3 linked regions of the Homo sapiens genome follow. The protein of the gene in region 1 purifies or fractionates together with the protein of each later gene. This does not show direct contact. Each region holds a gene or a part of one and is shown on either strand. Other genes may lie near its edges.

Region 1 (8,167 bases):
TTGGAAGGAAAATGGGAAGACCTGTCTATGGCAGTTAAAATGGATGAGCTAGAGCCACATTTTTCATGAAGGATAAATCTCAAAACTACATGTAAAGTTGAGTACAAATTACATAGTAACCCCTATAATGTATTCTTGCCAAAAATATTGAACCAAAATGAAATCAAGTATTTAGAGCTCAAAGGATATGTACAAACTGAAACTATTTGTATAAAATTTGTAAAACATGTAAATTATACTATATAATATTTGTGGCTACCCACGTATGTACTAAAAATATGTGAACATGCATGGGAATAATAACATCAAAATCAAGATAGTAGTTAACCTGGGAAGGAAGGGGGAAGGAATTGGTGAGGAGTAGACATGGTGATTTAATTGTGTATATAATCTTTTATGTCTTAAGCTAGATGTTGAGTGTTCTTTATATTACTCTTTAGTATGCCTGAAATATTTGCTATTTTTTTCAAAAGCCCCAGGAAATGAATTTTGTAATTTTGACAGATGGCAGAAGGGCCATAAAATTACTTAACATTATCAGGCTTTCATATCTCCATCAAGTGTCGTGACCTTCAAGTTGAGAATGATAGGACAAACATTTACATAAGGAAGGTAGTTAAACAGTAACTACAAGTTTTCATGCCCAGCTTAAAGCATACTAAAGTTCAGGAGGATTGGCCACAGGACCCCTGAAGCCCATTTTTGAGTAGTGCAACAAATGCCCAAGTCTGACAAATATCCAAATTTTCAAAAAGTAAGAAGGTGAACTGTGGAATTAACAGGGTGAAAAATTTGACATGGATCCCTGGTAAAATTCCAGTATTAATTATTTTAGGAGATGTTTTATGAGCGATTGTGGTTAGCCTAGAGGAAATAATGTAAATAAATGTCTCTTAATCCAACTAGATTATTAAAGTATATGCTAACAGTCTACTGTGGAAGTATCTTTATAACAGCAAAGGGTATAGCAGTCTTTCATGAATGTATTGCACAAAAATATGTGAACTGGACATTATTACTATTAAGTAGATTAATATTGGGAAGAAAGACTGTACCCAGTCAGCCTGGAAGGTAGATGACCACGCATAGCATCTCTCCTGTAGCTCCTTGCACAGTGCCTTTGCACAGTATTCACTAAAGTCCTTTACAAAATTATAGACTTAGTATCCTTAGGGATCATTCTACTTAAAATGCCAATTTCCATTAGATGAGAATAAAATTTTATAAAATTGGGGGATTGAAGAAATTATTTTTGTATAATGATTTTTATTCAGCAAGCAATATGGCCAGGCATTTTCATATACAATATATGTATATTAACCCTCTCACAATGAATTTGTGCATAAGGGATTTGTTTTCACTATTTTACAGATGCAGCAATTAAGACACAGAGAAATTAAGTAACTTGCTCACAGTATCATAGCTAACAAGTTGCAGAATCAGGAACAAGATCTTCTCAATATAAAGTTTCTGCACTTCCCATAATACCACTTTATTGCTACTGTGCCAAGTATTTTCTTACCTCCTTTGTCTTTGAATAAATAGAAGACCCGACTGGGCTGGAAAGGCTGCATTTATATCCAAAGTAGTCTAGGTATGAGATCCAAGAGTCTGAAATCATTAGATTCTCTTCTAATTTTATCCTCTTTTGTACAAACAAGTTTTTAATCTCTTGGGCCTCAATTTTCTCAAGTATAAAATGAAGAAAGTATACCTCATTACCATTATAGTATCTTCCAGGTTTGCAGTTATTCTCATCATGAAATTTGATGCCAGGCAATGTGTTAAGTGATTTCCACGTATTAACTAATTTATCCTTATAACGGCTCTGAAATTTAGGTATTTACACTGGACCCATTTTGCAGATAGACAAACTAGGGTGGGTCTAAGGTATGATACACACACATTGTGAGTGGGGTAGCCAGGATTTAATCTCATAATTAAGCAAATTTTATTTCATTTTGATACATTTTTAAAACAGCTAACCATGACTATTCACAAAGGTATGCAATCCTTGCCCCCACTGAAAGCACCAGAACACCTTGGAAAAATGGCTGATTCCAGGTCTGAGGCAGGAAATGTATGACATGTGTCTGAAACATTTATCTTGCCATAAAGGAAAAAAGCAAAGACGCTTAGAGTTGGATGAAAAGGACACAGGAGATAAAATAAAGGGACTCCCACTGACCAAAGATGAAATAATTTGAACATTAAAAAGAATAACTACTGCAATTGATTGAGACTCATTGAATGTATTTTTTTAAATCCATGTGTTCATATTGATATGCAAAAAGAGAAAACAAAATTTTGCATTAGTTATCAACTGATGCAGAACACTTGATGTTGTGCACAAAAAGAGAAAACAAAATTTTGCATTAGTTGCACAAAAAGATTTTACATTAGTGCACATTAGATGCACAAAAAGAGAAAACAAAATTTTGCATTAGTTATAAAACTTAGAACCAAACATCTGTTGCAGTTTCCTCCCTCAAAGCCATTCCCCAGCTTCTGAAGACCAGAAATCTGGGAGCAGCTTGGCTGGTGGTCCTGCGTATGTCATAAGGTTGCACCCAAGACATCAACCAGGGCTGCAGTCATCTGAAAGCTTGACTAAGGTAGAAAGATCCACTTCCAAACTCACTCATGTGTCTGCTGGCAGGAGGCTTCAGTTCCTCACCACCTGGGCCTCTCCTTACAACATGGCATTTGGCTTTCCCAAGGGTGTGTGATCTACGAAAGAAAAACAGACCAAAACAGAAGCCGTAGATTATTTTATAACCTAATATTAGAGATAATGTAGCATCGGCCAGGTGCGGTGGCTCATGGCTGTAATCCCAGCACTTTGGGAGGCCAAGGTGGGCAGATCACTTGAGGCCAGGAGTTTAAGACCAGTCAGCCAACATGGCGAAACTCTATCTCTACTAAAATATAAAAATTAGCTGGGCATGCTGATGCATGCCTATAGTCCCAGCTACTTGGGAAACCGAGGCAGGAGACTCACTTGAACCCGGGAGGTGGCGATTTCAGTGAGCCAAGATCGCGCCACTGCACTCCAGCCTGGGCAACAGAGCAAGACTCTGTCTCAAAAAACAAAACAAACAAACAAACAAACAAACAAAACATAGCATCACTTTTACCAGATCATTCAGTCACACAAACCAACCCTGGTACAATGTGGAAGGGGGCTACACAAGGATGTGAATGCTGGACAGTAGGGCCCAGCTAGCCATTTTATAGGATGGCTATCACATTTTGTAAGGTGGTTACCATTGATGGCACCTAAGGCACAACTGCTTTTTCTGAAAATTGGCAATTATGTTGAAAATTAAACAGTCTTTCTTTCCTGTACAAACTACATTTCAGGATAACCAAATAGCCCTAAATTGCTAAATTGATGAAGGAAAGTTTTTCTTTATAGAGGAGTTCTAACTAATAAATGTGAAAAAATTATTGAATTAGAAAAATTACAATTTTACAAACTCTAATGAAATGGGGTGGCTGAATCTATCAGATTAAAAGCCAGTGGGAAAGTTTACATGGAAGGATTCAGCTATCAAGTATTAAACCCACTGGTCAATCTTAGCATCAAAAACATTATATGCTTCCTGATGTGTGGCAAAAAGTACATAGCACCACCTAAGGATTCTTACTAACAAAGTTAAACCTAACTCTAATCAAACCTTTAGAGGTAACATCAAGTTTTACAGGAAATATGAGGCTAGAGAAACTAATAAAATGGGGACACAAATAGACAAAGCCAGCATGTAGAACATTCAGGACAAATGTCCCAATTTGTTCAATTAGTTGACTATATGAGGGGAAGACGAAGAGGAGGATGGAAGGAGGAACTAGTTCAGATGTGAATTTTAAAAGAATTAAGACACATGCCCAAATTAAATACTGGAACTTTAGATCTTGAATGAAATAGAAAACAAATGTAAGAAGCATATGTATATATTTAGGGAAATATAATATGGACTTGGTATTAGATGATAACCAGGAATTATTTTGTTAAATGGGATAATGGTATTGTGATTCTGTAGGAAAATATCCTTTTTAAAATAAATGCATAATGAAGTTGAAAGTAAGATATTTGGGGTTTGCTTTAAAACGTTTCAGCAAGAAAAAATGGAGATGGATGAAACAAGTGTGGCAGAATTTTATGTATTTTTAAATGTAAATGATGGGTATATATGGGTTAATTATACTCTTCTTTCGACTTCTGCATAGGCTTAAAATAGTCTTTACTTTTGAAAAAGACATTCAATTATTTGTGTTCTTAGTTAATATTTAAAAGTAACTTTTTCATATATTTGTCACAAAACTTCTGTCCATTCCTATCTAGAGGTTCCTCTACATGGGAAAAAAGGAGCAAAAGGGTAATATTTCTGCAACCCCTTTGCACAGGCCATAAACGCACGCAAACTCCTAGAAGGCTGAGCCGCGAGGAGGAGGGCGGAGAGTTTAAGGGAACGCCTAGACCAGAGAGTTGACGCCTTTCCTAGAAAATCACCGGAAATGATAATTGGCGGACTAGGAAGTGGAGCTTCTGTATATTTCTGTTTCTCATTTCTTGGGGAGAGTACCGGCGGGAAGGTCTGTGCCTTGGGCCGTCGTGGGTCGGAATTTGCAGCTGAGAGGAGAGGAGTCCGGTGCCGCCGTCGCCCCCCTCACCTAAATACCCGGGCCCCTGGGGTTGCAGGCAGGGGCGGGTCTTTGGGGCCAGATTTGAGGAGGGAGTCGGCTGCGGTTTCCTCCCTCGAAGCCATTCCCCAAAATGAGCATTTCCCGCCCATTTGCCCTACCTCCTCCCAGGGGCTCGTGACCCATTTTTTTTTTTTTTTTTTGAGACCGGAGTCTTGCTCTTGTCGCCTCCTGACCCATTCTTTTTATTCTTCTCTACAGCATCCATTCATATATTCATTCAGTCAGCTAATTTTTAATCCAGCACATACTATTGCAAGCGCTGTTTTAGGCGTTGAGAATACAACTGTGAACAAGACGACAAAAATTCCTGCCCTCATGGAGCCTAAGAGCCTAGATTTTAGCGAAGGTAGAACCACCGTAAACAATGTATATATTAATAAGTAACTTATGCACCATACTGGAAAATTATAAAGTGCTATAGAGGAAAAGAAGAATTCATGTAAAGCAAGGTAAGGCCCATCAGGATTGGAAGGAGGGGATAGGCTGCAATTTTAAATAAGGCACTCAGAGTAGACCTCCTTGGGAAGATGACCTATAAGAAAACACTTGAAGGAGGCAAGATTATTAGCCATGGAGATCGCTTAAGGTGAAGGGAGCAGCCAATGGAAAGGCCCTAAGATGAAAGAGAAGGAAGGTCGGTATGGCTGAAGATTGAGGGAGTGGGAGAAGAGTAGAAGGTGTTGAGAATGACACATCCTGTAGACTTGTATGCCACTCTTAAGACTTCAGCTCTTATTTTGGGTGAGCAGGAGAGGAAGTTAGAAGTCACGGGCACATTCAGTAGGGCCTTGTATACCTCGGTAAGGACTTCAGGTTTTATTTTAAGTATGAACCACTGGAGAGTTTTCAGCAGAGCGATGAAATGATCCAACTCAAGTTGTAAACGGACTACTCAGACTGCCCTATTAAGAAAGGAGGTGGAGCTTGCAGTGAGCCGAGATTGCGCCACTGCACTCCCGCCTGGGCCACAGAGCGAGACTCCGTCTCAAAAAAAAAAAAAAAAAAAAAAAAAAAGAAAGGAGGAAGGCAAGGATTGAAGAAAGGAGACCAGTTAGAAGACTACCGCAGTAATGGAAAGGAGGGGAGATAGCAGGTGATGGTGGCTCAGACAAGGGTGGTAGCCGTTGAGATTGTATTCTGGATATGTTCACATTTTCAGTTTGACTTCGTGCCTCAGGTTCTCAGTGACTCCCTATTTTTTCCTGTGGTCACATTCCTCTTTTCCCTTCACCAAATATGCAGGGAAACAAGATGTGAGATCACAGCGGTTTAGTGTTGCTAATGAACCCCAAATCCAGGGCAGTGTTTGACACATTAAGCCAAACAGTAGCGGCACTGTGGGTCAAGAAGGGCCCTTTGGCTGGCACCACCAAAACATGTGTTCTCCAAAGGAGGCTGGCATCAACTGGAGCCACTTCACAGCTTGTTTGAGAACTGGATCTGACCAGTAGGAAGAAACCAGGACAGCAGTGGAAGACTGTTAAAGAAACCTGAGTAAAAAGATGCAGGAGGTAAGAAGAGGAGGGTCTGTGATACATCACAAGGAGGAAGAAGGAGAAGTGAGTCCAAGAAAGAAGGAAAGCAGTGTGAGTGGAGGTGTGTCTGACTCTAGATACTGTTGGAGGTGTCTCCTCCTAGATACTGTTTTTGCTGCTTGACCTGGTGATCATTAAAGCTTTGTAGTTGTAGATGCCATTTCTAGTTTTCATAAGGTATTAGGAACTGAGTCCATTATTTTCTCCCTTCTTTTGGTATTTCTGGGAGACAGTTTCTGTGGATAGACCTGTATGGTTGCTTGCATCTTCCTATGTATTTTTCTCACCTTCATAACTTTCCTGAATTCATTCTGTGTCTTGCAATAGGTTGTGCTGTTGGATGAGAGTTCAGGACCACCAAGCCAGCTGCTTTGGACCCGCCAGGATACCCAGCTCCCTCAGGAAAGCGGTGAGATACACAGGAGATTGTGGCAGGAGTCACGGCAGCTGAGAATGTAGTAAGGACACAGAGTGGGTGGAAAATGCCACACTGGGGCCCAAAAATCTGTTCATTAATGAGCATTTATAGAAAGTCTTATTTTGTTTCTATACGAGGCTTGGATCAATATCTAGAGGAACTAAATATTCAGTTTCTGTCAGTATCTTAAATTTTGAAAAAAATCAGTGTGTAAAAGATTCTACAAAGCAATTTATCAGAAAGAATCAATGCAGTCAGGCATTTACTGTTTGTATAACCTGAGATATATGGTAAATAGCGTACATATTTGCACATATTTTACACTTATAAAACTTGTGGTATAATTCAGTAATTCCTACCCAAACATAATTTTGCCAACATGTAAAATTTGAATATATACAATTTTACTTCTGCAGACCTTTCTGGAGCCCTGATACTTTTAAATGATGTATAGATATCTCCAAAATATAAAATAAAGCAGTGACAAAAGAAGAAGCAAAAGTTTTCCCATTGAAGCCTTGTGCTCTTTGGTGGCGTATGTGAGGAGGAAAAGTGGTTAAGATTTGTATAAAAGCTGATGGTAGGCCGGGTGCGGTGACTTATGCCTGTAATCCTAGCACTTTGGGAGGCCTAAGTGGGTGGATCACTAGAGGTCAGGAGTTCATGACCAGCCTGGCCAATATGGTGAAACCCCATCTCTACTAAAAATACAAAAATTAGCCAGGTGTGGTGTAATGCACCTGTAACCCCAGTTACTCAGGAGGCTGAGGCAGAAGAATTGCTTGAACCCAGGAGGTGGAGGTTGCAGTGAGCTGAGATCATGCCACTGCACTCCAGCCTGGGCAACAGAGTGAGACTCTGTCTAAAAAAAAAAAAAAAAAAATTGCTGTTGGAGGTGCAACCTAGGAGATAGTATATAGCAATTCAGGAGTCATAAAATCAAACCCAGAAAGGCATAGACTTTTGGACAGAGGAGTAGGCACATTCAAAAGTAAGCTTTTTAGTATATGCTACCTGCAAAAAATAAAAATAAAATGTGTTTCTAGATATAGTGTTGAAACATCTAGAGGAGGAATCCTGAGATATCTGCTGTACAAGGGATCACAAATGAGAATTAATAATATAGAACATAAATTTTTTATAGATTTAGAAATAAAAAATAATAGCTATTGCTAAACTCGGATGCACGAGTCTCCCAGTCTTCTTTTTCTCAAATGGTCGTGAAATCTGCTGTGGTGGATTTTCAGGGTCAGAAATTCTGTAGCCACCTATCATATAATACAATACAAATGTATTAATCTTATCCCACAAGATATCTGTATACTGCTTTAACAAAAAGTTTTATGTTGTTTTTTCATGTAGCCTGTTTCCTAAATTCATTTTTAACTTAAGAGGAATAACCTTTCAATTTCTAAAGCTAAAGCTAAAAAATAAAGCTTATGAATCACTATGAGTGACAGACTTTCCCAGTTGTGAAGAAGATATGGTAAAAACCAGTAGGGAATGA
Region 2 (8,283 bases), on another chromosome or scaffold:
GCTGGGGAACTCCTATCAGGAGTGCAGATCTCCATGTTGTCATCTGTTTGAAGCACATCTTCCACTCCATTGGGAACACTTTCTTCAACGTGCTGAATGTTTTGTAAACAGGCCACATTTTCCTCAGTATTTAAAGCTGTGGGAGAAATACTGAGTTTACTATCATCTTTAGTAAACTGATCAAGATCTGATGAAACAGTCACTGTATCATGTTTACCTGAAAGGTCCTCTTCACTGGATTTCTCAGTTTTTAGAATATTATCTTTTATGGTTTCATTGTTTTCAGAAACTTTTTTCTCTTTTGATTCCTGAGTAACTTGCTTGTCATCAATCTCCTCCTCCTCCTCTTCACCAAATTCTAGTGGAGGCTGCCAGTGAAATGCTTGCTTTCGTTTTGGAGCCTTATGCTTTTTGTCTTTTTTCCCTTTCAATTTCTCTTTCACTTTTTTGGTGTGTTCTCTTTTAAGATTTTCCTTTGACCCATGTTTGTGCTTTTGTGGCTTTCCCCTATTGTTTTCCGAATTGGAACAGGACCCCTCAGAGTCAGAAGTTGATGTGCGCTGTTTGCTTGATTTCCAAGCACCATTATCATCAGGCAGTGAAGTATTTGTGGACGACTTGGTTGTGGGTTTGACTTTGATGTGAATTTCACTAACCTCTGATTCAGAATCGGATGTGGCCTCACCTTCTTCCTTGTCAGAGGATGGATGGGAGTCATTTTTACTGTTTTTAGTGACATCTCGTTCTGAATTTGACTCAGAGTCCCATTTACTACCAGCATAATTCTTCCTTTTGGGCTTACTGCCATTTCTAAGGTGATCAGAAAGATTCTCTTTCAAAGTTCTTTTTTTTGAATGAGGGCATTCCCGTTCAGACTTGGATTTTTCTTCACCTCTGTTTTTTTCTTGTTTATTATGTGTTCTTTCCATTTGGCCCTGCTTCTCTTTTTCCTGGGCTGACTGTGTGGCCTGAACACTTGACTGCTCACTGTCTGAAGAATAATCTAAAGATGATCTGCTCTCGCTATACTTTCTCACACATGAAGACCTGTCTCTACCTTTGACATATTTACTGTGAAGTGTCTTTTCAGAGCTGCTGCTATGCTTTTTATGTGAAACGCTATTTTTTTTCCCACTGGATCTAAGTCTCCTCTTAGCTCGCCTTCCATCATCACTGCTAATAGAAGTATATGAAGATGATCTACTACACTGTGAATGATCACTGTATTTATTTCGTGAATGAGATCTAGATGATGGAGACCTAGACCTTGAATGTGAACTAGCTAGACTACGTGATCTTGTATATGATCTGGAATAAGATCTACTCCTAGAAGATCTGCTCCTTGACCTTGGTGAGCTTTCTGAACTTCTATCACTGTATTTTGAATAAGTGCTCTGATCACTTTCCGAATTTTTTTCTCTTTTATGGTAGGATGATGAGCTACCAGTCTCTTTAATATTTGCTAAACTGTAAGTGCTTTGGATGGGTAGCAAATGGGTTGTTTTAGCTTTCATTTCCTGAATTCGCTCATAAGAGGGCTTCCAAGGTTTCTGTCCAGGCTTCCATCTTGAAGGGGGGGGACTGTCACTCAGTGGTATTACAGGAATATTTTCTGCTACAACTGGTTGTACTACTACATTTTCATTTTGTGCCATGGTTGCTCTTAAAGGTTCTGTTTTAACTGGTTTATTTTCACTTAACTGAGAAGCTGTTTTTCTTGGTGATTTTGATGCTCTCTTTCGGTGCCCAGACTTGGAACTAGATCTGGACTTTGATCTACTTCGAGAATGTGATGAGGACTTTGACGCAGTCCTTGATCTTGAGCTTCCTCTAGAATAAGACTGTGAGTGAGATTTTGATCTGTATGAGTCTCTGCTGGAATGGGTTAAAGAGCTCTGGACATCCTTATCAGATTTAGACCAGTCTCTCTTTGATGAGTGATGAGATGACAATGAGGAAGAACGAGAACTCCTTTCTCTATCACAAGAGGATTTCATTCTTCGAGTGGAAGATTTTGAGGATTCTATGTCAGACGGTATAAGAATCCTTCTCTTCTTTGTTTGTTTGTGTCTTCTGCAGTGTTTCTGCTTTTTCCCTTTCTTTTTATGCTTAACCTTTTTTTCTTTTCTGCGTTTTTTATGGTGGCCAGAGTGTCTTGCTGTACTAAGGTCTGAATAATATCCATTATAGGACCATGATCTGGATCTCTGAGACAAGCTTCTTTCATCCCATCGGCTTGAACAGGGGTCACTTAACCTATAGAAAGGACATAATATTCATGCGGTGATTTATAAGCATGTTTTCTACACCTTAAGACACAGCTTTGTTAACAACAAAGTTCTTGACCCCATTAACACTTTAAGCACACGCAGGAAGCGTGAATCAGAGTTATAGGCCTGGTCTTGTTATACTTTCAGAGACACACACTAAGAACTACTAACAAATTCACTTACAAAAGGATTTTTTTTTTAAGCTAAGCAAAGAACCTTACATTTGTTAGGAAAATGTTTTTGAAAAGCAAACCAACTAATCACAAGAACACTGCTGAACTCAAATCACAAGAGTTCCTGGCTGTTATCTGCTCACAACCCTCTGCCTCTAGGACAGTTTTTGAGGGTGAGTCAAACCAAGGTCTCAAACAATTTGTTGATTTTCTGAAGATGCAGGATAGCTGCTTGAAACTAGCATGAAGCTTGTTTTTTCTCCACCTCAGACAGGTAATCCAGATTTCCCCTAAGACTGTAAACTACTTAAAACAGAAATTGAGGAAAAAGTACACAAAAACAGATACAGGTTACAATCTGAGTGTTAATGTCAAGGCTCAGAACTGAAAGTCCTCAGCACCACTGTGTCTGAGCCGCTTCTACACAGCAGATGCATTCCTTTTCCTCCTTTTCACAATTCCAAACCACTCTGCAGGATGTCCCCAGAGAAAAAGAGAATACTACCATGGAAGATTACACAGGGTCCCATTAGTATATTTTTCACTAGCTATTCTGGGGCCTATCCCCTTCCTAAAATAAATATTCAACTGTGGGACATCACTGAAGGTAAGAGATGTGTACACTTCTAAAAAAGCAAGTCTCTGCGATCAACAGTCAACATGAACACCGAGTGCAGGTTTTCCTATTTACCAATGAACTCATCAGTGACCTGGCTGGCTAGGAAAGAATCTGCTATATAATTTCTAAGTCCTAATTATTTTTTTTTTTTTTTGAGACGGAGTCTCGCTCTGTCACCCAGGCTGGAGTGCAGTGGCACGATCTCAGCTCACTGCAAGCTCCACCTCCCGGGTTCACACCATTCTCCTGCCTCAGCCTCTCTAAGTAGCTGGGACTACAGGCACCCGCCACCACGCCCGGCTAATTTTTTGTATTTTTAGTAGAGATGGGGTTTCACTGTGGTCCCAATCTCCTGACCTCGTGATCCGCCTGCCTCGGCCTCCCAAAGTGCTGGGATGACAAGCGTGAGCCACCACGCCCGGCCTCTAAGTCCTAATTATTTCTAAAATTGACTAAGAGGTCATTAAAAGACACAGGCTTATAGTTTTTGTTAAGGAAAACAGGATTTTGATTTAAAAGCCCAACTAGTTAACAGTACTACTTTCATCAAGTAGTCCCAAATGTATTTCCTTTGGTCACAGTCTGACTGTGAATCTTTCACTGAATCTTTAATGAAAAGTCCAGAATTGTATCCAATCCCTTTAACATTTAAAATATAACAGACACAGGATTGTGCTTATACTCAAAGTTCTTACTTATCTCCTTTACTCCATTTTTCTCCACTAGGTGGTCTATATGCTCTTAATCTCTGCATTTCCTCTTTCCAGTGAGGAGGAGTTTCACTGCTGTCATCATCATCTGACTCAGAACAGGATCTTGATCTTGGAGGTGTGTGATAGCGCTTTAAAAACAAAAACAATAGTATTTTAAAAAATGCCTCTCCACGACAGTCTGCTATGTGACAGAGTTAAGTAAAAGACCCAATCTCAGATCATCCCATCAAAGGTAATGATTGAAGTTACCAAAAGGATGGTCTAAAGTTCTTTTTTTTTTTTTTTTTTTTTAGTTTTTAACTTTTATTTTAGGTTCAGGTGAAGTTATTTCAAACAAGGCATTAAAAGAGATGGGCAAGGCTGAGATTCACCTGTAATCCACATAAAATTTTCCTTTTTAAAGTCTTAATGATTTCTCAGCATACTCACTGATGGTTTCACATGTTCCTCCTTTCATACTCAATTAAACCCATTCAAACACAGCAGTATACTTTGATCTAACAGCAATACCTTCCCATAACCATGGAAAATACAATTAGTTCCTTGAACAGATTTTGTATTATATCTAAAATTAACGCTAGGACTTTGAAAATAGGTAAAAATTTTTTATTAGATACATAATATCAAAAAAAGTCTTATCACACATACAATTGTGCCCCTTCCTTTAATCTTCCGTCCAGACTTTGATACAGATGGTTTCTGATCACTTACAATGGGTGCAACATCAGGAATCTTCCTAGGAAAAGAAGATTGTGATGAAAATTAAAAATAAGCAAAGAAGCTAGAATTTTTAATAATGAAAACACATTATGTTAAGCTATTAATTCAAAGATACATGCCATTTTGCAATAGCTTTTTAAAACAAGACAATATCAGGCTTTAAAAAATATTTAATGAACTAAATGATAACTTTATGCAGAGAGCTAATTATAAATAAGGACTCTTATACTTTTCAGCTTTCAAAATAACTCTTCATAGGGAACTTATCAATGACACCAGCCATTATGATATTTCTGTTCATGAAACATTTTCTTTCAATAATTCTAAACTTGAGTCTAACACACAAAATACATTAAATACTATTTTCTCAGACCAAATCTAAAGCGACACATTCACTTTTCCAATGCAGGAAGTAATTGTTGAACAAGTTAACAAAAGTAACTTATTTATGATACTAAATTGTATCTCCAATCATCATGCAATTAATTATGCACTATTCAAATTGGAACCCATGCTTCATCACTCAAATGGATCCAAAGAATTCAACTAACTCTCTATTCTGATAACTAAAACCTCACCCCTCTAATAAAAGGCAAAGGCAAGAAGATCAGGAATAAAATCTTTCCAGATCCCCAATAAGGGCTTCCCTGACCAACTTGCCCAACCTCCTCTCCCTGCTAGAATGTGAATTCTGAAAGGTAGGGTACATATCACTCAATAATCTGGTATCCCCCATATTTCCTACGTATCATTCATTAATCTAATACTCCCATACTATCTTTCAATGTGCTTCAAACATGGATCATGTTCCATACATGAGTGTGGAATGCAATGAGCTGACGGAACAGTGTTATCGGAGAAATAAAAATAAATAGTTTAGTCATCCTACTTACGGTTCAGGTTCTGCAGTAACAACAGGCATATCTCTTCTCAGTAAAAATCGGTTCTCAGGCACTGGAGGAATCTCTTCTGGGCGGACCACAGGTTTTTCCCTTTTAGCACTGGAATCAACTGACCTTTTTTCATTGGTATCACTCCTCTCAGAGTGACTTAGAACAAACCAAGTCACTGATTAAAATGTATAATGTTTGCATTTCATAATAAAAGCACATAAAATTAGTTACTAAAACAACAGCATAATTAACGATAGCTTACAAGTCTCACTCAAAAGAGTTATATGATTTTCACAAAGAGAACAATATCAACCCAGTGAAAAACCCAAAGACTAGAATTTTGATAGGAAAATTGTTAAATGATCCTAACTTTTTTATTTTAAGAGTTCCAGGAGGCCAGGCATTGTGGCTCACACCTGTAATCCCAGTACTTTAGGGGTCTTAGGTGGGAGGATTGCTTGAGGACAGGAGTCAGAGACCAGCCTGGTCAACATAGCGGAAGACCCTGTCTCTACAAAAAATTTAAAAATTAGCCAAGCATAGTGGTATACGCCCGTAGTCCTAGCTACTCAGGAGGCTGATGCAGAAAGATCTCTTGAGCCCAGGAGGTGGAGGATGCAGTGAGCTATAATTGTGCCACTGTATTCCAGCCTGGATAACAGAGCAAGACCCTATCTCTTAAAAAAAGAGTTCTTAGGACTATTTTCACCCGAAAACTGAAAACACACAAATCTTTGAAATGAAATGCCTATGCTACCTACTCCTAGATTTGCCAGATTTCAATTTAAAGTTTAAAAAGTGCTATCCTTTTTCAATAACAGGTAATAAAATTGAGTTTATAGAATTATACATACTTTTCCCATTCCAGAGTGTTTGTTTTTAGGTAAGAGTACATTGGTGTTTTACACGTACCCTTTTGGGTTCATTGCATGTTTATTCCTTGGCTCTTCTGAACTGCTTGCTTCCTTTCGCCTCTTTTTAGAACGTTTAACTTTTGGCCTCCTCTTATGTTTCCTCCTTCTGCTTCTCTCATGTTCAAGTTCACTTTCTGAAGATGATTCTGAAGAAGAGGAGGAATTGGAAGAGGAATCCGAGCCTTCTGAATGAGTTGGTTTCTTCCTTTTTTTCTCAAAAACTTTTAAGAAACATTAATAAAAACATTAGTACTAAATTCAGTGCCTACCTTTCAGAGTAAAAAATGTGATTACTGAATATCATAAAATATGCTTTACATACAGCAAACAAAAAATGAAATGTAGACAGTTTTTTTCAAGTTTATAATAAAATTACTGGCAAGATTGTAAGGTAGTAAGTCCCTTGTCTTTATGAAGCCTATATTCTTGTTGGGTCAAGTAACAAGAAATAGGCCCGGTGCAGTGACTCATATCTGTAATCCTAACACTGTGGGAGGCCAAGGTGAGCAAATCACTTGAGGTCAGGAGTACAAGACCAGCCTGGCCAACATGGTGAAACCATGTCTCTACTAAAAATAACAAAAATTAGCCAGGCATGGTGGTGCATCCCTATAATCCCAGCTACTCCAGAGGCTGAGGCAGGAGAATCACCTGAACCCAGGAGGCAGAGGTTGCAGTGAGCCGAGATAGTGCCACTGCACTCCAGCCTGGGTGACAGAGCAAGACTCTTGTCTCAAAAAAAAAAAAAAAAAAAAAAAAAGAATTGCATAATATGACAAATGATTAAGTGCTAAGACAGAAAAACAAAGCAGTGTAAAGGGAATAGGAAGACTAGGGGTAGTTTAACATAACATTTGAACAGAGACTTAAGAGCAAGGGACAGTGTCATGCAGATATCTTAACAAAGGGTGTTCCAGACAAAGAGAATAGGCAGCACAAAATCCCTGAGTGGTTGGCATGTCTGAAAAAAGGTCAATGTGCCTGGAAGGCAATGAATAAGGGAAAAGAGTTTAGAGAGACAGCAGAGAGCCAGACCAGCCAGGGCCTTAGAGACCACCATAAAGACTTCTGCTTTGGATGATTGAAGATGGGAGTCCTTGGAGGGTTCTGTGCAGGCGTGACATGAATGCAAACTATGGTTCAAAGGGATCACTCTGGTTGCTGTTAAGGACAGACCACAGCGGGCCTAGGATATAAGCAATGAGACCAGTTAGGAGGCTATTGCTGCTGACAAAAGATTATAGAACGGAGGCAAGGTAAACAGTTACGACGCTACGGCAATAATCCAGACACAAAATACTGGTGGTGTGGATAAGGCTGGTGGCAAGGAAATAAGAAAAAGTAAGATCTGACAAGATATGCTAAAAGATTAAACATGTAGGGTATGATTCAGGGGCACCAAGGGCTATTGCTATACCACTAGTTCCACTAATCAAATCTAGTTACAGTCTTCAGCAATGCTTTACCTGCATCTTAGCTTCATCTACTGTCAAAAAAGTTCTTACCATCTTTTATTGATTTTGTGGCAAGTACTCCACAGTCAATAACTCGCACATCTGCATATGGTCTGCTTGCAGCATCGGTCTTCAGATTTTCAATTTGTTCGATTACTTCAAAACCAGAAATAACCAGTCCAAAGACTACATGCACCCTGTCATAATACAAATTCAAGAAACAACTGGTTTGATAATTAAGCTATAAACAGTAATCAAGACAATTAACTGTAATCAATGACATGTCCACAGACCTGAAAATAAAACCAAACTGTTTGTTGTATGAAGCAACTAGAATGGAATGAGAACTTGAAATCTGCTTCATAAAAGGAAACGATTATGCAAACTGGGCCTCAGTTTTCTGCCTTTAAAACAATGGTTCTTAACCATTTTAGGGTAAAGAGTCTGGTAACATTCAGATTTCGCTTGGTACTTGGGAACCTTCCTTACAGGGACACATGATATTGTACTGCTTACTATCCGACCCA
Region 3 (8,283 bases), on another chromosome or scaffold:
GGTATACAGTATTATGAATTATAAACAATTTGATGTGCGATCTTATATTTGGCATTTAAAAATTTTACAATTCTGGGAAGAAGACAGGAATAAATATTTACTATATACTTACTCTGTGCCAGGCTCCATATAAATTAAACACCCACACACAAAGTCAAGGTATGTAACTATGAAACCTCAATCATCACAATTCTGTAAAGTACATGCTGTTATCCTAGCTTACAGATAACAAATTTAAGATTCAGAGAAGTTAGTCCAATTGTCTAACATGGCACATGGGGATGTGTTTCTTCTATTGATAAATAATTAAGAAAACAACTGAATTAAAAGTCACAACATCAAGATTCTAGCTCCAGGTCTGCTACTATGTGTGTGACCTTATCTGTTTATAAAGTGGGGAGAGGGGTGATCCACCTCGTTTACCACAAAACACTTTTGTGAATATCAAATAACAGATGTGGAAGTTTTTTGTAAACTATGAAAGTGTCATAAACATGTAAATAATTATTTTTATTGTAGGAAACAACTTCTTTTCCTGGTGAATGACCCATTTCAAAATGTTATATAAATATTTCAGTTAAAACATAATTTCAGACAATTCTTTAATTCATTAAAGATTCATTAGTTAAAATATTTAAAGAAAGACTGGCCTAAAATATTACACATTATCACCTTGGAGGAGAATCATCCTGCTTTTTAAATCCAGGAGGAAGGGCTGGTCCAAAAAACCCATCATCATCATCATCGTCATCATCCTGATTTTTCCTCTGTTTTCTGAAAACATAGTAGTATAACTTTATGCATATATGTCAAAATTTTTTTCACAAAAGCACATTTTAATTTTTTTTAAAAAAGCATTAAATCTAGTTGTATAAACACTGCAACAATAAATTAATCCTGCCAAATAAAAACTGGATACTACGATAGTTCTTTTTTTTTTTTTATTTTTTGAGAGGAAGTCTTGCCTTGTTGCCCAGGCTGGAGTGCAGTGGCGTGATGTTGGCTCACTGGAACCTCCCACTCCTAGGTTCAAGCAATTCTCCTGCCTCAGCCTCCCAAGTAGCTGGGATTACAGGGAAGCGCCACCACGCCCAGCTAATTTTTGTATTTTTTAGTAGAGACGGGGTTTCACCATGTTGGCCAGGCTGGTCTCGAACTCCTGACCTCAAGTGATCTCCCCACCTTGGCCTTCCAAAGTGCTGGGATTACAGGCGTGAGCCACTGCACCTGGCCTACGACAATAGTTCGTAACTAGTCTTTTCCTGGAATTTATTTTTGGCCTAAAATACAGATTGGTTATTTCTTTACAGCAGTAATATATCACTATTCTATATTTTCTGTGGTATTAAAGATTCCCCTCAATGCAGTTTCAAAGTCTATTGGTCAGATGTTTCTCAGTAAAAAGTTTATGACTGTGACTTTTATTCTCATCTAAGGAAGGGTTTTAAGTTGCTATTTCCACCTGATAATATTTAAAATGAATCAAAAAAGCTTGTTACTCAATAATAAACAAAGATTTGACTTCTCATTTACATAGACTCATAGTGGGTAAGGCCAGATTAGAGGAAAATCATTCAGCTGGGCACAGTGGCTCATGCCTGTAATCCCAGCACCTTAAAAGGCCGAGGCGGGCAGATCACTTGGGGTCAGGAGTTCAAGACCAGCCTGGCCAACATGGTGAAACCCTGTCTCTACTAAAAAATCCAAAAATTAGCCAGGTATGGTGGCACACACCTGTAGTTCCAGCTACTTGGGAGACTGAGACAGGAGAACCACTTGAACTTAGGAGGCAGAGGCTACAGTGAGCTGAGATCGTGCCACCGGATTCCAGTCTGGGCTACAGAGTGAGACTTCATCTCAAAAAAAAAAAAAAAAAAAAAAAAAAAAAAGAAAACCATTAGTTTATTTAAAGAAAACATACACTGCATATATAATTTTAATAAGAAATTCTATGGTTTATGTAGCCTATTTTGGCACTTCAATGACATCTTAAGAAAAATCATTTATGTAAGAATTTTATTGGCTGGTGTGGTGGCTCATGCTTGTAATCCCAGCACTTTCTGAGGCTGAGGCGGGCAGATCACTTGAGTCCAGGAGTTTGAGACCAGCCTGGGCAACATGATGAAACCCCATCTCTACAAAAAATACCAAAAAATCTACAAAAAATACAAAAATTTGCGGGCACCTGTGGTTCCAGCTTCTCAGAAGACTGAGGTGGGAGGATCGCTTGAGCTTGGGAGGCAGAGGCTGCAGTGAGCCAAGATCGTGCCACATCACTCCAGCATGTGCGCCAGAGTGAGCCCCTGTCTCAGGAAAAAATATACATATATATTGAAATTCTAGATATCTCTATAGCTGCAAACTACTAGAATAAATTTCTTTGTAAAAGGTATAATTCAGGATGAAATGCCACACAAAATGATTTCTCCCTGTGCTGTATAAATGGAAATATGATATCCCCTTACTAGCTATCTGTTCCAGCCAACTTATACTAGCTCTGAAGTTTGGTCTATCATTTAATTTAATTAAATGACTGACCTTGCAGTTGGACCACTGTCATCTTCTTCAGATTCTTGATTTCCTTCTTCGTACAAAGAACTACTGTCTTCATCGCTGTCTGATGAATCTGAACTACTGCTTTTATAATTAGGGGGCAGAGCTGGTCCTGCAACTAAAGAACACTTGTTGTTTGTCATCACTAGCCACTACTGTTTCAATGAACCCTTCTAGCTGATATTTTTCACTTTCTTTTCTGAAATAAACAGCACTGGCTGTCTATCATTTATTATTCACTTTAATCTCAATTGCTGTTGTTTGTGTACAGTGGTTTTGTCTTTCCAGCTCTAGGAAGGCAGAAATCATGTCTTACACAATCTCTTTCATGAGATTCACAAAAGCTTTGTTAATATCTGAACTTATAAACCCGAACTTATAGATATAGCAATAGCATGTAATTTCCTTGATAATGTGCAGTTTTTGCATTGGTTGGTGCACCTGCCAAAAAAAACAAAAAAACAAACAAACAAACAAAAAAAAACCCCAATGGCTTCATGATTTTTTTTTTTCTTACAGTTTACGGTAGAACCACTACTTAAAAAAAAAAAATCTTTCCTGGCATCCCCATATTTCTTGGTTAGTTTTCTTTTTGAGATGATTTTCCAAGCAGAAATAAAATTAGAGTCACTCTAAGTTTTACTGCTTGCCAACAGAGATACAGGGAAGAGAATGAGGCTGCACTGTAATGGGGATGTTAGGGAGAGTGGTAAGGGTCTTCTAGGTCCACTTATCAGAATGACTTGCTCTCACTTTACATCTCAGCAAAATTACAAATTACTATATGGTGTCACTGCAGTGTCATGATGTCACTGATGATGTCACACAGACACAACTGTCCAGGTTGATCCTAAATAGTGATGCTAAAAGCCTACTATCATAGTTCCCAAGGTTGGATATTTATCAGACTCCCTAAAATCTATGTATTTTTAAAAGATTCATGGGCCCTTTTCTCAGATATTCTAACCCAGTTGGCCTGGAGGAGGGCCTGGAAACATGATTTTCCAAAGAGTATTCTGGGTATGCCATTCATTCAATATTATAGTAATAGTAATATTTGTTACTACAAAAACTTAAGTGTAATAAATAAATAACAAATAACATGGTTTGAGTTCTTAGGTGTTATGAATTGTTTTAAGAGACATACACATTATTCTATTTAATTCTGATAACAATCCTATAAGGGAGATATTATTTCTATTTTACATATGGAGAAACTGAGGCCAAGAATTGTTAAGTGACTTGCCTAACTTCATACAACTAAGTAGTGGGGCTGTGACATGAACCCAGGAGTCTGATTTCAAAGCCTATATCCTTAACCACTATACTAGCCAATACTCAATAGTCAGCAACCATCCATCCAACAACAGTTATTAAGTAAATACTTCTAGAGAAACAAACATTAAAAGAATTAAGATCAATTCAGATAGTGTAAATGCTACTATGAAAATAGGAAAAAGGTGACACTGTATATGTGGGAGGGTAATTTTAAAGACAGTGGTAAGGCAAAAATCTCTCTGAGAAAAAGACATTTGAATGGAGACTTAAATGATGAGATGACAGAGGAACAGCCAGTGCACAACTCCTATGCAGGGAGCAAGCCTGATGTGCTTGAGGAATAAAAAGGCCAGTGTGGCTAAAGAAAAGCAAAATGACGACATCAAGTTGGATGGTATAAAGGGGCCAGACTCTTGCTTTGGAGGCAGACTCTGTGCTTTGAATTCCAGGTTGGCCACTTACTAGCTGTGTGATTTGGATAAGTTACTTAACCTTCCTATTACACTCTTGCTTTGTAAAATGAGGTTAATAATAGTTTCAACCTCACAGGACTGTTGTGAAGATTATATCAGTTAATATATGCAAAACACCTAACAAAGTCTTTGGCATATAGCAAGTGCTCAATAAATGCTAGTACAGGCTACAATAAGGAGTTTGGACTTCTCTTTCCCTTTCCCTTTTCTGTTCCCTTTCCCTAAGAGGCGAGATCTCACTGTGTTGTCCAGGTTGAAGTGCAGTGGCTTTTCACAGGTGCGATCCCACTGCTGATCAGCACCAGAGTTTTCACATGCTTTGTTTCCGACCTGGGCTGGTTCACCCCTCCTTAGGGCAATCTGGTGGTCCTTCACTCCCGGAGGTCACCATACTGATGTTGAACTTAGTGTGGATACCAGAATGCATAGCGCACTACAGCCCAGAACTCCTGGACTCAAGCGATCCTCTTGCCTCAGCTTCCTGAGTACCTGGGACTACAGGCATGCACCACCACATCCAGCAGGAGTTTGGATTTTAATTACAACAGGCAGTCATTGGGAGGTTGTGGGTCAGGACAGACATGATATGAATTACCAAACAAACAAACAAAAAACTGTCAGCTTGTGGACAATAGACAAGAGAGATCAGCAACAGGGGATATGCATTAGAAAGCTGATAAAAAATGGTGTGGGCCAGGTGTGGTGGCTCACGCCTGTAATCCCAGCACTTTGGGAGGCCGAGGTGGGCGGATCACCCGAGGTCAGGAGTTCGGGACCAGCCTGGGCAACATGGTGAAACCCTGTCTCTACTAAAAATACAAAATTAGCTGGGCATGGTGGTGTGCGTCTGTAATCCCAGCTACTCAGGAGGCTGAGGCAGGTGAATTGCTTGAATTCTGGCAGTGGAGGTTGCAGTGAGCCAAGATCACGCCATTGCACTCCAGCCTGTGCGACAGAGCAAGACTCCATCTAAAAAAAAGAAAGAAAAAAAAAAGGTTTGATTTGCAACATACTCTGATGTAAGGGCAAAGAGGACTGCTAATGGTTTGGATGTTAGAGGTGAGAAGAAAAAAAAAAGGAACCAAGGATAGGTCTTAGGTTTTGTGCCTGACTAGCTAGGCAGGTGAAGGGCAATGGTATTCTCTAATATGGAGAAGGCTGGGAAGAAAATAGGCTGGGAGGGGAGAGTTGAGAGTTTGTTTTTCACATTTTAAGTTTCATACAGCCTTAAAAATTTAGGTGGTGCTATCAGTGGTACTTGGGCATACTAGGGTGTATAGGGTGTGTAAGTCCGTTCTCATGCTGCTATGAAGAAATACCTGAGACTGAGTAATTTATAAAGGAAAGAGGTTTAATTGAGCCACAGTTCAGCATGGTTGTGGAGGCCTCAGGAAACGTACAATTATGGTGGAAGGGGAAGCAAACACATCCTTCTTCACATGGCAGGAGGAAGGAGAAGTGCAGAGAGAAAGGGGGAGAAGCCCCTTATAAAACTATCAGATCTCATGAGAACTCACTATCACGAGAACAGCATGAGGGTAACCACCACCATGATTCAGTTACCTCCCACCAGGTCCCTCCCACAACATGTAGGGATTATGGAAACTATAATTCAAGATGAGATTTGGGTGGGGACATAGCCAAACATTATTACAGTGTAAAGCTCAGGGGAGAAACTAAGGCTAGTTTTGGAATCATTGGCCTATTTCAAAAAAATTTTTCCTATCTCTCTTGGTGCATTACTATAGAACAGGTAATAACATGCCTTAGAAAAGAATAACTCTAAGGCATGCTGCGTTACAGCAAAAAGGAAAACATCAAGCATCATGGATGGGATTCCTATCTCCAACTGCTGTTTAGGGTTTACTAAAGAAGACTTAATGTCTTAGTATGTAAGTGTTCCCCAATTTATTTATAATTTAGAGACTATATGTGACCTCTAACCTCATGTGTGACCCCACAGGAGTGATTGGCTCTTTTCATCTTCTTGATTCTAAGTACATTAAAGAGGGAAGATATGTTTTTTCCTCTTCTGCTTCTTTCTCTTCTTATATGTGACTGCTATCCATGTAATTTATCAATTGTATACTATTGGCCAATTTTGGATAGGTTTGTATCAAGAAAAAATTTTATTATTCTTTTATATATTTTAAGCAATTAGATGTGTAATATGGTCTAAATATGTGCTGTTCTTGGTATTATAACGTACACACATACCTTTTATTTATGTATTCATTCACTCATTTATTTATTTAGTCTTGCTCTGTTGCCTGGGTTAGAAAGCAGTGATCATGGCTCACTGTAACCTTGAACTCCTGGCCTCAAGCGATCCTCCCATCTCGGCCTCCTGCATGGCTAGGACTACAGGTGTTTGCCACCATGCACAGATAATTTTTAAATTTTATTTTATTTATTTTTTTGAGACCAGGGTCTCACTATGTTGTCCAGCTTGGTCTTGAACGCTTGGCCTCAAGTGATCTTCCTGCCTTGGCCTCCCAAAGCACTGGGATTACAGGCATGAGCCACCACACCTGGTGCTATTACAACTAAAAAATTGCCATGGATTTTTAAAGAAACAAACGAGATATACATTTTTTAAAAAGATAATAAGCAGATGAAGATAAAACTCATCTAAGAAAACCTGGCCTTTTAAAAATAATCACGGAAAAATAGTATAAAAAAGTAACATTCAGCACATAGTACCATTAATTTCTATTTGAGTTGTTCAAAATAAACAACTATTTCATCATGAAATGATAGAATACTGAGATGGCGATATAAAAAAGAAAAAAGGGGCCAGGCGCAGTGGCTCATGCTTGTAATCCCAGAACTTTGGGAGGACAAGGCAGGCGGATCATGAGGTCAAGAGATCAAGACCATCCTGGCCAACATGGTGAAACCCCATCTCTACTAAAAATACCAAAATTAGCTGGGCGTGGTGGCACATGCTTGTAGTCCCAGCTACTCAGGAGGCTGAGGCAGGAGAATCACTTGAACCCGGGAGGCGGAGGTTGCTGTGAGCCAAGATCACGCCACTGCACTCCAGTCTGGTGACAGAGTGAGACTCTGTCTCAAGAAAAAAGAGAAGAATATTAAAAGTGTCAGTCAGTATACGCCACAATACAGACCCCCTAATAAAAGTAAGGACATGTCTGGCTTCACTTTTTTATAGATATCCTTCTGAACTATGAATAATCTCAAAAAATTATTTTGGGAACATGTAATGAACTATTCCATATCTCTCCTAAAGCAGTGATGCTTGTCGTCATTAAGGAGGCTCTCCTATTGCAATGATAATTTTCCAAATAGATTATAAATTCCATGAGAACAGGAGTTACGCGTTCCTTATATTTCACTTATTTCCCTTTCATATCACACAGAATTGTGATATGCATATAAAAAAATGAACTCAGTATAATACATAAAAATCTCATTACAGATCAGCATTAACAGATGAACATCCACAACTGATTCTGATGACTAGGAATGCTAACTTGAACTCCGATGAAATGAAATGTTACTCCCCCAAAACCAATTCTGTTCTTCTCATTAGTAGACCTGTATTACAAAAAAATTATATGGTATTATGTTTTAGATTGCAACAATAAAATTTTGTGAAGTTTGCTTCCTTCTTGTTGTACACATACTTTTACAATAATCTTGATTTTGCCTACTGACCTACAGTCAAAAGTACAGTTGTCCCTCGGTATTCTCGGGAGATTGGTTCCAGGACCAACTCCCCTGTTTGCAGCTACCAAAATCTGTGGCTATGGCCTTGGTTCCACTTCCCTTGAATATTGTACTTTCAATCTAGAGTTGGTTGAACCTGAAGACTCAGAACCTGCAGATCTACAGGGTCAACTGTATTTACTATCTGGTCCTTTACAAGAAAAGTTTGCTGACCCCATGACATGGTTAAATCATGCAAATATAAAGAAGGGGCACCCAACCCATCTTTTACAGGCAGTAGGTAGTTAAC

What was found. The genes of interacting proteins can lie anywhere in the genome.
Region 2: the proteins of ZNF311 (region 1) and NKTR purify together in Homo sapiens (affinity purification with mass spectrometry; 2 studies listed by BioGRID and IntAct, with this or other methods). This does not show direct contact.
Region 3: the proteins of ZNF311 (region 1) and GPALPP1 purify together in Homo sapiens (affinity purification with mass spectrometry; 2 studies listed by BioGRID and IntAct, with this or other methods). This does not show direct contact.

What each region holds. Positions count from the first base shown.
Region 1 is NC_000006.12:29,001,997-29,010,163, reverse strand, and holds the start of ZNF311 (zinc finger protein 311), read left to right. Parts: upstream 1-4,848; 5' UTR 4,849-5,156; exon of another isoform or gene 5,157-5,624; intron 5,625-5,729; exon of another isoform or gene 5,730-5,949; 5' UTR 5,950-6,209; coding exon 6,210-6,218; coding exon of another isoform or gene 6,219-6,293; exon of another isoform or gene 6,294-6,303; intron 6,304-6,569; coding exon 6,570-6,651; intron 6,652-8,167. UniProt on the Homo sapiens protein: May be involved in transcriptional regulation.
Region 2 is NC_000003.12:42,630,841-42,639,123, reverse strand, and holds part of NKTR (NK-tumor recognition protein), read right to left. Parts: intron 7,954-8,283; coding exon 7,808-7,953; intron 6,524-7,807; coding exon 6,301-6,523; intron 5,564-6,300; coding exon of another isoform or gene 5,545-5,563; coding exon 5,389-5,544; exon of another isoform or gene 5,388-5,388; intron 4,512-5,387; coding exon 4,424-4,511; intron 3,904-4,423; coding exon 3,758-3,903; intron 2,257-3,757; coding exon 1-2,256. UniProt on the Homo sapiens protein: PPIase that catalyzes the cis-trans isomerization of proline imidic peptide bonds in oligopeptides and may therefore assist protein folding. Component of a putative tumor-recognition complex involved in the function of NK cells.
Region 3 is NC_000013.11:44,998,693-45,006,975, reverse strand, and holds part of GPALPP1 (GPALPP motifs-containing protein 1), read right to left. Parts: intron 4,827-8,283; exon of another isoform or gene 4,529-4,826; intron 2,672-4,528; coding exon 2,539-2,671; intron 775-2,538; coding exon 673-774; intron 1-672.